Linked DNA regions of Homo sapiens. The protein of the gene in region 2 interacts with the protein of the main gene of each other region in a pairwise test. Each region holds a gene or a part of one and is shown on either strand. Other genes may lie near its edges. The genes, in order: LGALS8, NR1D2, CLOCK and PCSK5.

Evidence for each region.
Region 1: the proteins of NR1D2 (region 2) and LGALS8 interact in a two-hybrid assay, tested with the Homo sapiens proteins (one large-scale study listed by BioGRID).
Region 3: the proteins of NR1D2 (region 2) and CLOCK interact in a two-hybrid assay, tested with the Homo sapiens proteins (one study listed by BioGRID).
Region 4: the proteins of NR1D2 (region 2) and PCSK5 interact in a two-hybrid assay, tested with the Homo sapiens proteins (one large-scale study listed by BioGRID).

Annotation. Positions count from the first base shown.
Region 1 is NC_000001.11:236,537,438-236,541,010, forward strand, and holds part of LGALS8 (galectin-8), read left to right. Parts: intron 1-59; coding exon 60-148; intron 149-1,441; coding exon 1,442-1,652; intron 1,653-3,126; coding exon 3,127-3,246; intron 3,247-3,573.
Region 2 is NC_000003.12:23,955,265-23,958,837, reverse strand, and holds part of NR1D2 (nuclear receptor subfamily 1 group D member 2), read right to left. Parts: intron 2,802-3,573; coding exon 2,713-2,801; intron 1-2,712. UniProt on the Homo sapiens protein: Transcriptional repressor which coordinates circadian rhythm and metabolic pathways in a heme-dependent manner.
Region 3 is NC_000004.12:55,427,372-55,429,698, forward strand, and holds the end of CLOCK (circadian locomoter output cycles protein kaput), read right to left. Parts: 3' UTR 532-2,327; downstream 1-531. UniProt on the Homo sapiens protein: Transcriptional activator which forms a core component of the circadian clock.
Region 4 is NC_000009.12:76,331,104-76,334,676, reverse strand, and holds part of PCSK5 (proprotein convertase subtilisin/kexin type 5 isoform 3 precursor), read right to left. Parts: exon of another isoform or gene 3,124-3,573; intron 2,245-3,123; coding exon 2,067-2,244; intron 1-2,066. UniProt on the Homo sapiens protein: Serine endoprotease that processes various proproteins by cleavage at paired basic amino acids, recognizing the RXXX[KR]R consensus motif. Likely functions in the constitutive and regulated secretory pathways.

The DNA.
Region 1 (3,573 bases), on a different chromosome or scaffold from region 2:
ATTGCTTAGTAAGTAATTTTGTTTATGTAAACGTACATTTGTTAAATTTTTTTTCTTAGGTAATCCCGTTTGTTGGCACCATTCCTGATCAGCTGGATCCTGGAACTTTGATTGTGATACGTGGGCATGTTCCTAGTGACGCAGACAGGTAAAATCACTGTGCTAAAGGAAGGAGCATGAATAGGCTGTCTTTTTGTGATTGTGGAATGATAACAGAGTAAGGCGGGAGAGACCATTTGATACTTTGAGGCCCAATTAGCTTTCATCAGCAGCCCTGGCCAAGGTGCTGAGGAGATTGGAATGAATGACTAAATAAAGGTTATTGGGATTTATTTCATTGCTGTAAGTCTGATTTCAGTATAAAAAATTAGAACTATCAGCTGGATGTGGTGACTTAAACATACTTTTCCAGCACTTTGGGAGGCCAAGGCAGGAGGATTGTTTGAGGCCAGGAGTTTGAGACCAGCCTGGGCAACATAGTGAGACCCCCCATCTGTAAAAAAAAAAAAAATTTAAAAATTAACTGGCTTGGTGGTGTGCGCCTGTAGTTGTAGCTACTCAGGGGGCTGAGGTAGGAGGATTCCTTGAGCCCAGGAGTTTGAGGTTGCAGTGAGCTGTGATCGAGCCACTGCACTATAGCCTGGGTGACAAAAAAAAAAAAGAAAAAGAAAAAGAATTAGGTATGTCATTAAAGAAAGGAATTGTGGTCAGATGACAGGGACAGTCTAGTTTTAGTCTGACATTCCCACAGCATTACAGATCTAGTTCAGATGGTTTTACTGAATACCTGCTTTGGATACAAGCTGTGGTATCATTAGTGTTGGGCTCAGCTCTGTGTACCTAACACCTGAAGAGCAGTGGTTTAAGATGTGAAAATTAAGTCTCAAGGAGACAGCCCAGGCCTTTTCAGTTAACTCCTTCAAGTCGTTAGAGAAGTAGACTCCTTCGAGCTCACCACTCTGTTATCTTGAGGGTGAGGTAAGGTCCCCTTTCCCGTTTTCCTTGGCAGCCAGATTTCCAGCCCTCACTTCTGTGCTTTGGGTAGCTGGATGGGTGCATGTGGTGTTTGCGGGGAAACAGAGCTGGACAAAAGGCAAGTGCTTGCTGACTTCTAAGGCAGTTTCCAGTAGCCTTCCCTGAGCACTTCACTTCCATCTTACCAGCAGAGCTTTAGCTGCACAGGCAGGCCTAGCTGCGAGGGAGGCTGGGAAAGGTAGGTTTTTATTCTGGGCAGATTCAGACCCAGTTCAAACTCAGGGGCTATTTTACTGAGGAAGACAGAAAAGATTAGACAGTCAGCTCTTTAGGCCTCATAGTGAATGAATGAGGAGGGATTGGTCAGTCCCTTGTCACTGGGCCTGGAGTGTAGTGCCTGCTGGTCCTTTACTGGTGGCTTTCCTTTCTGAGCACTCATGGGGCCCCTGTGTCTTCCCTCATATAGATTCCAGGTGGATCTGCAGAATGGCAGCAGCATGAAACCTCGAGCCGATGTGGCCTTTCATTTCAATCCTCGTTTCAAAAGGGCCGGCTGCATTGTTTGCAATACTTTGATAAATGAAAAATGGGGACGGGAAGAGATCACCTATGACACGCCTTTCAAAAGAGAAAAGTCTTTTGAGATCGTGATTATGGTGCTGAAGGACAAATTCCAGGTAGGTTTTGGAGAGGGACAGGTTGAGTCCTCATTAGTGAGCAGGAGTGCACAGGGGTGCTTTTCACATTTGTGAGCCCAGCCTTATATTTCCTACACCTGAGATATAGTTTGTTTGGCTTTGTAGTTTTTCTCCATAAAAGGACCAGGAAGGCACCTAAATGTGAGGTATGGCACCACTACTCTCCAGCCAGTTGTTGCCATGCAGAAATATGGTCCACTGTGACCAGATCTTTTTATTAGATCCTATTTCTCCTAGCAGGGCTGAGTTCCGAATTGACACAGTATTATGTTCATGATGGGAGGGTAAGTTATAATATAACCGCCACCACCCGAAGAGCTAACAAGGGCAATCCCAGCGAAGAAATCAGAAGGGTTTTGTAAATTCAAGTCTTGCCACAAGACAGTTCCGTAGGATCATGAGATTTTAGACCCAGAGGAGATCCTAGAAATCCTTGATGTCAGTTCCATCTCTGGCTTCATGGAGTGTCTTGTACCTAGCGTGTATGTGTACGGTTGAATTTGGTCCCAGAAGCTTACACCTGCTGGCCCTCTGGCCTGTGGAGCTTGCCCACAGTAGAGGTATGTACCAACGCGAGAGAAGACTCGAATGCCTCTGGCGCAGATCCTTTCTGATCTTCGGGATACTGCTCCTGCCCGAAAGTCTTTCTGAATCTCCCAAACTCCATTCACCTCTCCCTTCTCTGGCCTTTTGAGCCCGTGTCTGTATCATTCTTTTTCACAGTTTTTAACAGTTGTGCTTTGGCTTTACGTGTTTATTTTGCCTCCACAATGGGATTTTAAGCTCCCTGAGTCAGAGACTATATTGTATGCTGCTCGCGTTTTCTGCCTATAACCTAACGTGGTACCTGGCATTTGAGAGGGAGGGAGGAGGAGCCTCGTAGCGTGCCGAGGACCTGCAGAAGCTACTTTCTCGTCATCTTACTGTAGTCTGTTGAGGTAGAGACTGTTCCTACTTCAGAATAAGAAAACCGAATTCAAATATGTTGGGTAACTTGTCCATATTAATTTATTTAGCAAATACAACAGATTTTGAGTGTCTGCCACATGGGTGGTCTCCAGGGACAGTGTTGTGGGGAGCTCGCAGGCAGATCTTTAACCTGGGTTCACAATCTCCAGGGCACCTGTGCCTGGGCTTCCAGGCGACCTTCGAACCCAGATGTCTCACATGTATGCAGAGGCGCACACAAGCACACGCACATATACTTATGACTGCCTGTTTGTCTGGGGAGAGACAGTTCCTGGTGCTTAATCAAATCAGGAACTCAAAAGAAGTTTGGAAGCACTGCTAGTGTTTTGGGTGCTTTCGGTTACCATTTGGTCATGTGTGTGGAGACCTGTGGGAACAGGTATAAAACTGGACGCAAGGAAACATTTAAATTTGGATAATAAGTTAATTTATTAACTGTTTTTTTTTGGTGGCGGGGGGGGCTCTGTCTTCTGTATCTCTCTAGGTGGCTGTAAATGGAAAACATACTCTGCTCTATGGCCACAGGATCGGCCCAGAGAAAATAGACACTCTGGGCATTTATGGCAAAGTGAATATTCACTCAATTGGTTTTAGCTTCAGCTCGGTGAGTGACCTTCCACAGCTTGGGGTCTTTTATGAGGATGGTTTCTGATGAGATGGTAGAAAAAATCTTCAAATAACACTTCTATTGACATAAAAAGGACGTATCTCCCTGACTGTAGTATTAATTTTTTGGAAGTGAACTGTTCACACTAGCAGAAGGCTGTTTATCAGCCAGGGCTTCATTGTCTGTAGGATCTCAAACCTAGTGTGGTTTTAATAAAACACACACAGTTTTTAGCTGGGTAGCAGCTATTTCCTTTGCATGGGCATAAAATGGAGTATTTCTGTAAGACAGGTTCCTAGGCTGGGAGTGCCTGAGTCAAAGAGC
Region 2 (3,573 bases):
AGCTGGGATTACAGGCACGTGCCACCATACCTGGCTAATTTTTTGTATTTTTAGTAGAGACAGGGTTTCACCATGTTGGCCAGGCTGGTTTTGAACTCCTGACCTCAACTGATCCGCCCACCTTGGCCTCCCAAAGTGCTAGGATTACAGGCACGAGCCACCATGTCCAGGCTTTTTTTTTTTTTTTTTTTTTTTAAAGAGACAGGGTCTTGCTCTGTCACCCAGGCTGGAGTACAATGACGTAATAATAGCTCACCGCAACTTCGAACTCCCGGGCTCAAGCAATCCTTCTGCCTCAGCCTCCCAAGAGCTGGGACTACAGACATGTGCTACCACATCCAGCTTTTTTATTTTTTGTAGAGGTAGGGTCTCCCTATGTTGCCCAGGTGGGTCTCACACTCCACCTCAAGCAATCCTACAGCTTCAGCCTCCCAAAGAGCTAGAATTACAGGCCTGAGCCACTGCACCCAGCCTAAATGACTACTTCTTAAAAAGTGGACTGAGAAATATGTTTGATAGCTATAATCCCCTCACTAGATTGTGGATTACATTAACAGAAGTTGGTCTTTCCAGGATCATTACCTGCTGACAATGGCAAGGCCTACTTATACATGACAGAAATCACTGACTACGTGCCAGCAACAGGTAAGTGTTACACCACACACCAACAGAGTAGCTAACTATCCAAGGAAAGACAGTTCCCAACTAGATGGCTACAAACAGCTGCCTTTACTCCACACACAAACAATTCCAGTACATGTTCTGTGATAGGTCTCCAAAGATCTCCAGTTTCATGGTACCAGGGAGGACAGAAAACTCAAGAATGCAATTACTGAAATTATTTTAAACTGCATTTTCCTTTTATATGACAACTAAACACATTTCCCGAATCTATACTAAGTAGTCATGGGACACAACATTTTTATATTTTATTATTGTGATACTATACACTTGACTTAGATACTACAAGAGCTGAACTAGACATTTTAAGAGTACTGCACAGATGTGTATTTATCAAGAATATGCAATCAGCTCATTCAGTTTGTGCTTTTATTTTCTAGCTATAAAGTAAGAATAATGCCTTCCCCAATATTACTTCACTTTTTTTTTTTTTGAGACGGAATCTGGCTCTGTCGCCCAGGCTTGGAGTGCAGTGGTGCAATCTCAGCTCACTGCAAGCTCCGCCTCCCGGGTTCACGCCATTCTCCTGCCTCAGCCTCCCGAGTAGCTGGGACTACAGGCGCCCACCACTACGTCCGGCTAATTTTTTTTTTTTTGTATTTTTAGTAGAGACAGGGTTTCACTATGTTAGCCAGGATGGTCTCGATCTCCTGACCTCGTGATCCGCCCGCCTCGGCCTCCCAAAGTGCTGGGATTACAGGCGTGAGCCACCGCACCTGGCCTATTACTTCACATTTTTGTAAAAAAAAAAAAAAAAAAAAAAAAAGATATATAGAGAAGGAGAATCTTTTTTAAACAATGAAAAAAATGCTACATCTATAAAAAATACTGACTTGTCTTACAAAGTTACCCGGCCATTAAAAGTTAGCAAACTTGGCAGGGCGCGTGGCTCACGCCTGTAATCCCAGCACTTTGCGAAGCCGAGGCGGGCAGATCACCTGAGGTTAGGAGTTCAAGACCAGCCTGGCCAATGTGATGAAACCCCGAATCTACTAAAAATACAAAAATTAGCCTGGAGTGGTGGCGTGTGCCTGTAATCCCAGCTACTCGGGAGGCTGAGACAGGAGAATCACTTGAACCCAGGAGGCAGAGGTTGCAGTGAACCAAGATCACACCACTGCACTTCAGCCTGGGAAATAAGAGCAAAACTCCATCTAAAAAAAAAAAAACTGGCAAACTCGCAATTCATTCAGAGCCACACTTGAAAATATTTCCTCTCCCATCATGTATATTCATTATCTTGTTTACCCATCATATCTCGCCAAACTAGATTCTTGCTTGTGGCCTCAAGTCAGAGAACAGCAAGAACATGTGTCTTCATCACGTTAATTTTTGATACTCAGGAGAAAAGATTGTGCCAAGTTTTTTAAAAAGAGAGAAAGATTCCCTGTATATAGGTAGGGAGGTAGAGACCATCTCACTTGGAATTATTTGACCAATACTCTAATAGCAATAACTAGAAAATAGTCAACTAAACTTACAAATAAACTAGCTTTCCCAAGGGCTCAACTTATATTCAGGATTATTTTACTCACTTGGCATTATTTTTTAAGATACCACATTTTTTTCAAGTATGTAGCAATTATTCCCAGCTCCCAGTACCTGACGTGTCATTAAGTCAAAGTATATGATGAGATCCTAATTCAAAGTTTGGTTTAAACTAAGTTCCCACAAGGCAGAAGTAGTGCCTTCTCTGTTTTGTTCCTTGTTATTTCACTACCACCTAGAACTGTGCTTGACACATTAATGAATGAGCATTTGGTGCACTTGGTTTAACACAATAAGTATGTTTAATTGAGATAGCAAATTTACTTTGTTCAAAATCTTAAAGAAAAAAGAAATACTTTCACTGAATTAAGAATATTATTCAAAACAAGTTATGCTTATACACTACATAAAATGCTTAAAACTTAAAAAGAGCAGCTGACTTCTCACTGTCTCTCAGACTATCAATTGCACAAATGGGTAAATCTAAACCCAACTTCTTAAATCCCAGAATCAGTAGCTTAAAGAAACAAAAGCATGCTTTACCTTACAGCCTTCGCAAGCATGAACTCCATAGTGGAATCCTGACGCCACATCCCCACAGACTTTACACAGTAGAACCATGCCACTAAATTCTAGGACACAAAAGGACACGAAGTAAAAAGTAGGAGGAAACACCGAGTCTGTTTTCTTTCCAATTAGATATTTTATTTCATTCAACGTGTAAGAGCTTTTAGAAGATACACATCTACTTTCATAATGTAAAAGAAAAATATTTTCAAATCAAAAGTAATCACAATCATAATTTTCTTACGGTGTTTTTTTTTTGTTTTGCTTTGTTTTGTTTTAAAGATAGAGTCTCCCTCTGTCGCCCAGGCTGGAACGCAGTGGCGTGATCTCAGCTCATTGCAACCTCCACACTTCCCAGGTTCATGTGATTCTCATGCCTCAGCCTCCCAAGTAGCTGGGACTACTACAGGCATGCACCACCACACCCAGCTAATTTTTGTATTTTTAGTAGAGATGGGGTTTTGCCATGTTGCCCAGGCTGGTCTTGAACTCCTGGACTCCGCCCCACTCAGCCTCCAAAAATATTGGGATTACAGGTGTGAGCCACCACACCCAGCCATAATTTTCTTTTAAATACAACTTATGGCACTGACAAAAATACCTCGCTGACCCGGATTTTTCCTTTCCTGATTTTAGAATTACACTGAAATTTTGTAAATTTATTTTTTTTCCAGACCTGTCAGCAGGAAATAAGAAATTTTGTAAATTTAGAGTTACTTTATACCAGATATGCAACCAGAACTAAGAAAACAATTCTCTGGATAACAATTAAGAATTCAGACAGAGAAGTCAATCAATAAAAGGTGGAAAGGGATATCTCTCCACAGGCAGCTGTGT
Region 3 (2,327 bases), on a different chromosome or scaffold from region 2:
TCACTCTGTCACCTGGGCTGGAATGCAGTGGCGCAATCTCGGCTCACTGCAACCTCTGCCTCCTGAGTTCAAGCAGTTCTCCTGCCTCAGCCTCCCAAGTTGCAGGGATTATAGGTGCCCGCCACCACGCCTGGCTAATTTTTTTGTATTTTCAGTAGAGACAGGGTTTTACCATGTTGGCCAGGCTGGTCTTGAACTCATGACCTTAGGTGATCCACCCACCTCAGCCTCCCAAAGTGCTAGGATTACAGGCGTGAGCCACCGCACCCAACCGTTTTTTCTAATAACAACAGAAAAGACAATTCCTCGTAGGGAGTAGCTGGCACCATCATCGTGTAACCTCAGTTCAGGTAGCTTGGTCCCATTACTAGCTTCATATGCGAATAAGAACAGCATCGCATTCTGAGGCACCACAATCTTGTAGCAGGACATAATTCCTCTGAGAATTTTTGGTAAGTCAGACCTAAGCTATAAGGTAAAAATCGCTACTGCAATAGGCTCCATTGTTGAATAAAAGAAAGGGAAATGTCATTGATAGTGATCTTAAAATATTTAATAGTCTTTCTTTAAAATCCAAAATGTGATTCTTACAAGTTATGTGCCACATGAAGCAGGTGTTATTTTTTGAGAAATGCAGGTGATAACTGAAAAACATAGCACTGAGGTATTTTTTATTTTTAAAATTGAAGGAAACAAAGTCTGGATCTAATTATTTTTACATTTACAAAAACTGCTACTGCTTGGCTCTTTTGCTATAAGTTTAGGTTCTGAATACATGACAAGAGTATGGGAAAGAGCAGAATAATAGTACACGCAGTTTTAAAAGCTATGCACATCATAACCTGGAATAATGATTACACAGCAAGAGGCCTGAGTGGAGGTAGGCTAACAACACATTTTGACTTTCTCCTCAAAGGATAGCTTTGAAAAACAAGTGTAACCAATTGTTACACCAAATTAAAATGGCAATATTAAATCGGTAACAAAACGATCCACATTTTATACAATATTGTATTTCCAAACATACATAGGTCATGAAAATCAGAGAACCTAATATAGCACCGTTGAAACCATTCATTATCCTTCATGTGTGTATGCAATTCAGAATTTCGGCAGAAGACAACAAATGGAAAATGCCTTTCGTTTCTATAAATCATTTTGGATTTCAATTAAATCTTTGCCTTAGTAAAGGGTATTCTTATCTCAAGATCAATTAGCCGTTTTTAGCTCCACCGTTTTGGAAGTAAAAATGATGAGCTACATCTACTTTTTAATTTAAAACCAAGAACCAAGCAGTAAGGACAGCAATGTCAAGAATATCACATTGAGAACCACACAGAACATTATAAAGAATTTGGTGCATGTTTTAACAACTACCAACTGATGTTAACAATGAAAAATTTACAAAGGTAAAACTTTTTTTTTTTTTTTGCACTGACTGGTTTCAATACAGCACTGAATTTAACTCATCTTTGGGCTTCAATCTTTACATAGAGTGAATATGAAAATGCCATACTGAGGCCTTCCCCAACTTAAACCATAGTAAAGATTTCAAAATCATTCCAGTATGGTCTGAATGGTAACTGTTCTGGCTGACACATCTTTTTTTTTTTTTTTTTTTTTAAAAAGACATTTCCTGGCCAATTTTTTTGCTTGAAGATGATTGTCTGGTTATACAAGACATCAATCTGAAGGTAACAACTTATTTTAACTTAACTACTGGCATAACCATTGCCAGCAGTGAACTTGCACTAGTCCAAGCCAACTCAAAAACACACATTATAAACATTTGAATGTCATTTTTAAAAGCGATGTCACAGTTTGTTTCCTAAGAAATTTAAAAGCTTTTATTTGAAAACGTATCTTCAGTTTAACCCTCAGAGTTAAGAAATATTTTTTAGATCATTAAATTCAATTGTGGTTGACGTGCTTTAACTACCGTTCTCTAAGTTGTGTGCTATACCTAGCCTGTGGGACTCCATAGCTTCTCTGAGTCCTAAAGTGGAGGATTCTGTTCCAATGCTTGTGAGCAAGAAGGATCCTCAAATGTCTAGGTTTCCAATATTCCAACACTGCTTTACTGGGCAGTGCTGTGTATGGAAGTTTTGTTTTGTTTTCAAAGGACCAAGTAACTTGACACCATATTAAAGACAGCAAACATTTTTTGTAGAAGTTTACAGCCTGTATACATTATTCCGCCAAATTTAAGAACTTTAAATGGATTTTAATATGGATATGATAATGACAGCCATTAAAAGATGCTATTTCTTTTACTAACATTTCCCCAAATGGGCAAAATAGAGGCATCATGTGCCATTGGTTCTGTC
Region 4 (3,573 bases), on a different chromosome or scaffold from region 2:
TCACTGCAACCTTGGCCTCCTGGGTTCAAGCAATTCTCCTCCCTCAGCCTCCCAAGTAGCTGGGATGACAGGCACGTGCCACCATGCCTGGCTAGTTTTTGTATTTTTAGTAGAGATGGGGTTTCACCCTGTTGGCCAGGCTGGTCTCAAACTCCTAACCTCACCTCCCACCCACCTCGGCCTCCCAAAGTGCTGGGATTATAGGCGTGAGCCACCCTGCCCAGCCTGGCTGGTGTTTTTCAAGAGCTGCCAATGTGTGGCTCTGTGCTGAGTGTTGTAGAAGCAAATGTAAGACGTAAGAGGTGTTTTTCTTCCATGAGTTTATAATTTTCTTGGGAAGAGGCATATAAAAATAAGAATAAACTCTTAAAGTCAGTGATATGGTTTGGTTCTGTGTCTCACCCAAATCTCATCTTGAATTGTACTCCCATAATTCCCATGTGCTGTGGGAGGGACCCTGTGGGAGATGGTTGGATTGTAGGGGCGGTTTCCCCCATGCTGTTCTTGCTGTTGTGAATAAGTCTTACGAGATCTGACGGTTTGATAAGGAGAAACCCGTTTCGCCTGGCTCTCATTCTCTCTCTTTGCCTGCCGCTATCCACATAAGATGTGACTTGCTCCTACTTGCCTTCTGCCATGATTGTGAGGCCTCCCCATCCACATGGAACTGTAAGTCGAATTAAACCTCTTTAGTTTGTAAATTGCCCAGTCTTTGGGTATGTCTTTATCAGCCGCGTGAAAACAAACACAGTCAGTCTTTCTTTTACTCATCTTATTTATACATACAAAGTACTCATCATGAAATGTGTTAAATAAATAAGTGAATGAATGAGATAAATCAAAATGCAAGGCAGCATATAGCACTAAAATGAATGAAACAAGCAGTAACTGCTATAGGACCGAAGAGATGTGTCAATTTGGGTGAAAGCATTTGAGGAAGGTCTAAGGTTACAGCCCTTGATTTGGGTCTGGAAACTCCCAGTGCTCTAGGTTATTGATTGGGTAGAAAGAGTCAGCAACAGGCCTATCATCAATCTTTTACTCTTTACTGGGAATGCCTGGGGGAGAAAAAGGATATGCTGGCAATCAGACCTTCTGATAACACTAACAGTTCTTCCTAGCAGAAAAATAATAGAGTCCTTATCCATGAAATGCTTTTAGAAGGATACATCAAGTGCGTGTGTCTACGTTGTTTATGATAACAAAACCTGTAATTTGTGGATTTATAGGTGACATGACAGGTTGGGGAATTAATGGGGAATAAATGGAGATGTTAATGGAACTATTTCCTTTGTAAATCAATGTTCCACACTCACTGCTCTCCTCACATAAGCAGGTTGGGAGAATGTGAGACCCTGAATTTTAAATCTGAATCAGAACAAGTCCTGAAGGTGAAGAAAAAGAACCTCCATTAATGATCTTGGGCTTCTCTGAGGAAAGGATGCTTTGCTTCTGCCTTGTGATTGCTGAGACCCTTTGCCAAATTGTTTTAATTTTTAGAAACAAGGTCTTGCTCTGTCACTGAGGCTGGAGTGCAGTGGTGCAATCATAGCTTACTGCAGCCTCCAACTCCTGGGTTCAAGTGATCATCCCCTGCCTCAGCTTCTATAGAAGCTGGGACTATAGCCTGATGGCACCATGCCCAGCTAATCTTATTTTAATATTTTACAGATGGGGTCTCAAGATGTTGCCCATACTGGTTCAAACTCCTGCCTTAAGTGATCCTCCAGCCTCAACCTCCCACGTAGTTGGGATTACAGGCATGAGCCACAGTGCCCAGCTGCCAATATGCTTTGAATTTTCAGTAAGGACTGTCGTTGAGGAAGATCAATTGCTCAGGTGAGTCCGGCTTGACAATCTGACCCTTTGTGTTAACTCACTCGGTCACTCTGCCTCTCCTGTTTCTCTTCTGTTACTGTGAATTGGTTCATCTTTGCTCCTTACTAGCACTGAGACTTCAACCTGGTTTTATAAGTGTTCTGAATCTTAGTTTCCTCATTTGTAAAATGGGTTGATATCTGCTGTGGCTGTGAAATTACATGGGGGAAAATGTATTGAGCACTTACCCTTCCCTGCACTGGAGCAGGCACTCTTTTCCTAGCTGGAACCAGCCCGGTCGGCAGGAGTGGCACTGCCTGCTGTGTCTCCCTTCACATGTCCTGCAAGAGCTGTGGCAGTGGGCACACCGGTTGCTGTCCTCATCGGCATAATAGCCCTCTGGGCAGTCCTTCACACAGGTTGTGTCTGTCATGGGAGAAAAAATGTCTATTTGGACATCGAGCATGACACATGTCTCCCCTGTATTTTCCCTCTTGTGTACCATGGCGGGAGGGAGGAGAGGGCTGCAGGAGGAATGGGATGATCCTGTGAGCTGATGGATATGTTTGGGAAATAAGATTAGTGTCCAAGAAACAGAATTGCCCTAAGGCCATGAGGAATACAAGGAAAACAGAAGTCAGTGATATGGTTTGGCTCTGTGTCCCACCCAAATCTCATCAGTGATCCCATCTCATCTCATCAGAGATCCAAATCTCATCTGTGTCCCACCCAAATTTCTCAGTGGATTAGCTGTGGTGGGTAGAACAGAAACTACAGTCCGGCGCCTGTGGATGTTGGCAATGGCTCATTGTCCAGCTCATGTATCTGGTTAACTAGGGGGAAGCCCCAGCTTCCTGAAGGAAAAACACCGCCGTATTAGTCTCTTATTGCTGTTCCTATGAAGTATCCCCAACTTGGGGCCTTGAAACAACAATTTATTATCTTACTGTTCTGGAGGTCAGAAGTCCAAAATAGATCCACAGGGCTCTGTTCCTTTTAGAGGCTCTAGGAGGGAATCTGTTTCCTTTCCTTTTCCACTTGCTAGAGTCCACCTGCATGCCTTGGCTCATGGCCCCTTCCTCTGTCTTCAAAGGCAGCAGTGCAGTAGCTTCTCTCTGTCCCTCTGCTTCTGATCACATCACCTTCTATTACTGACTCTGATCCCCTGGCATCTCTCTTTTTTTTTTTTTTTGAGATGGAGTCTCACTCTGTCGCCCAGGCTGGAGTGCAGTGGCACAATCTTGGCTCACTGCAAGCTCCACCTTCCGGGTTCACACCATTCTCCTGCCTAAGCCTCCCGAGTAGCTGGGACTACAGGCACCTGCCACCACACCCAGCTAATTTTTTGTATTTTTAGTAGAGACGGGGTTTCACCGTTTTAGCCAGGATGGTCTCGATCTCCTGACCTTGTGATCCGCCCACCTCGGCCTCCCAAAGTGCTGGGATTACAGGCGTGAGCCACCATGCCTGGCCCACCCCCGGCATCTCTCTTATCAGACCCTTGTGATGGCATTGGGTCTACGTGGATAATGCAGGATAATCTCTCTATGCCGAGATCCTCAACTAAATCACTGCCCCAAAGTCCTTTACCAAGTAGAGTAATACATTTACAGGATCTGGGGATCAGGATGTGTCATCTTCAGGGGGGCCATTATTCAGTCTACCACGATGTCCAAAAAAAGTATCTAATTTATAAATAGCCTGACCCTGGTGGTGTGGTGGTGTGGGACAGGGTAGAGAGAATGTGAGGATACC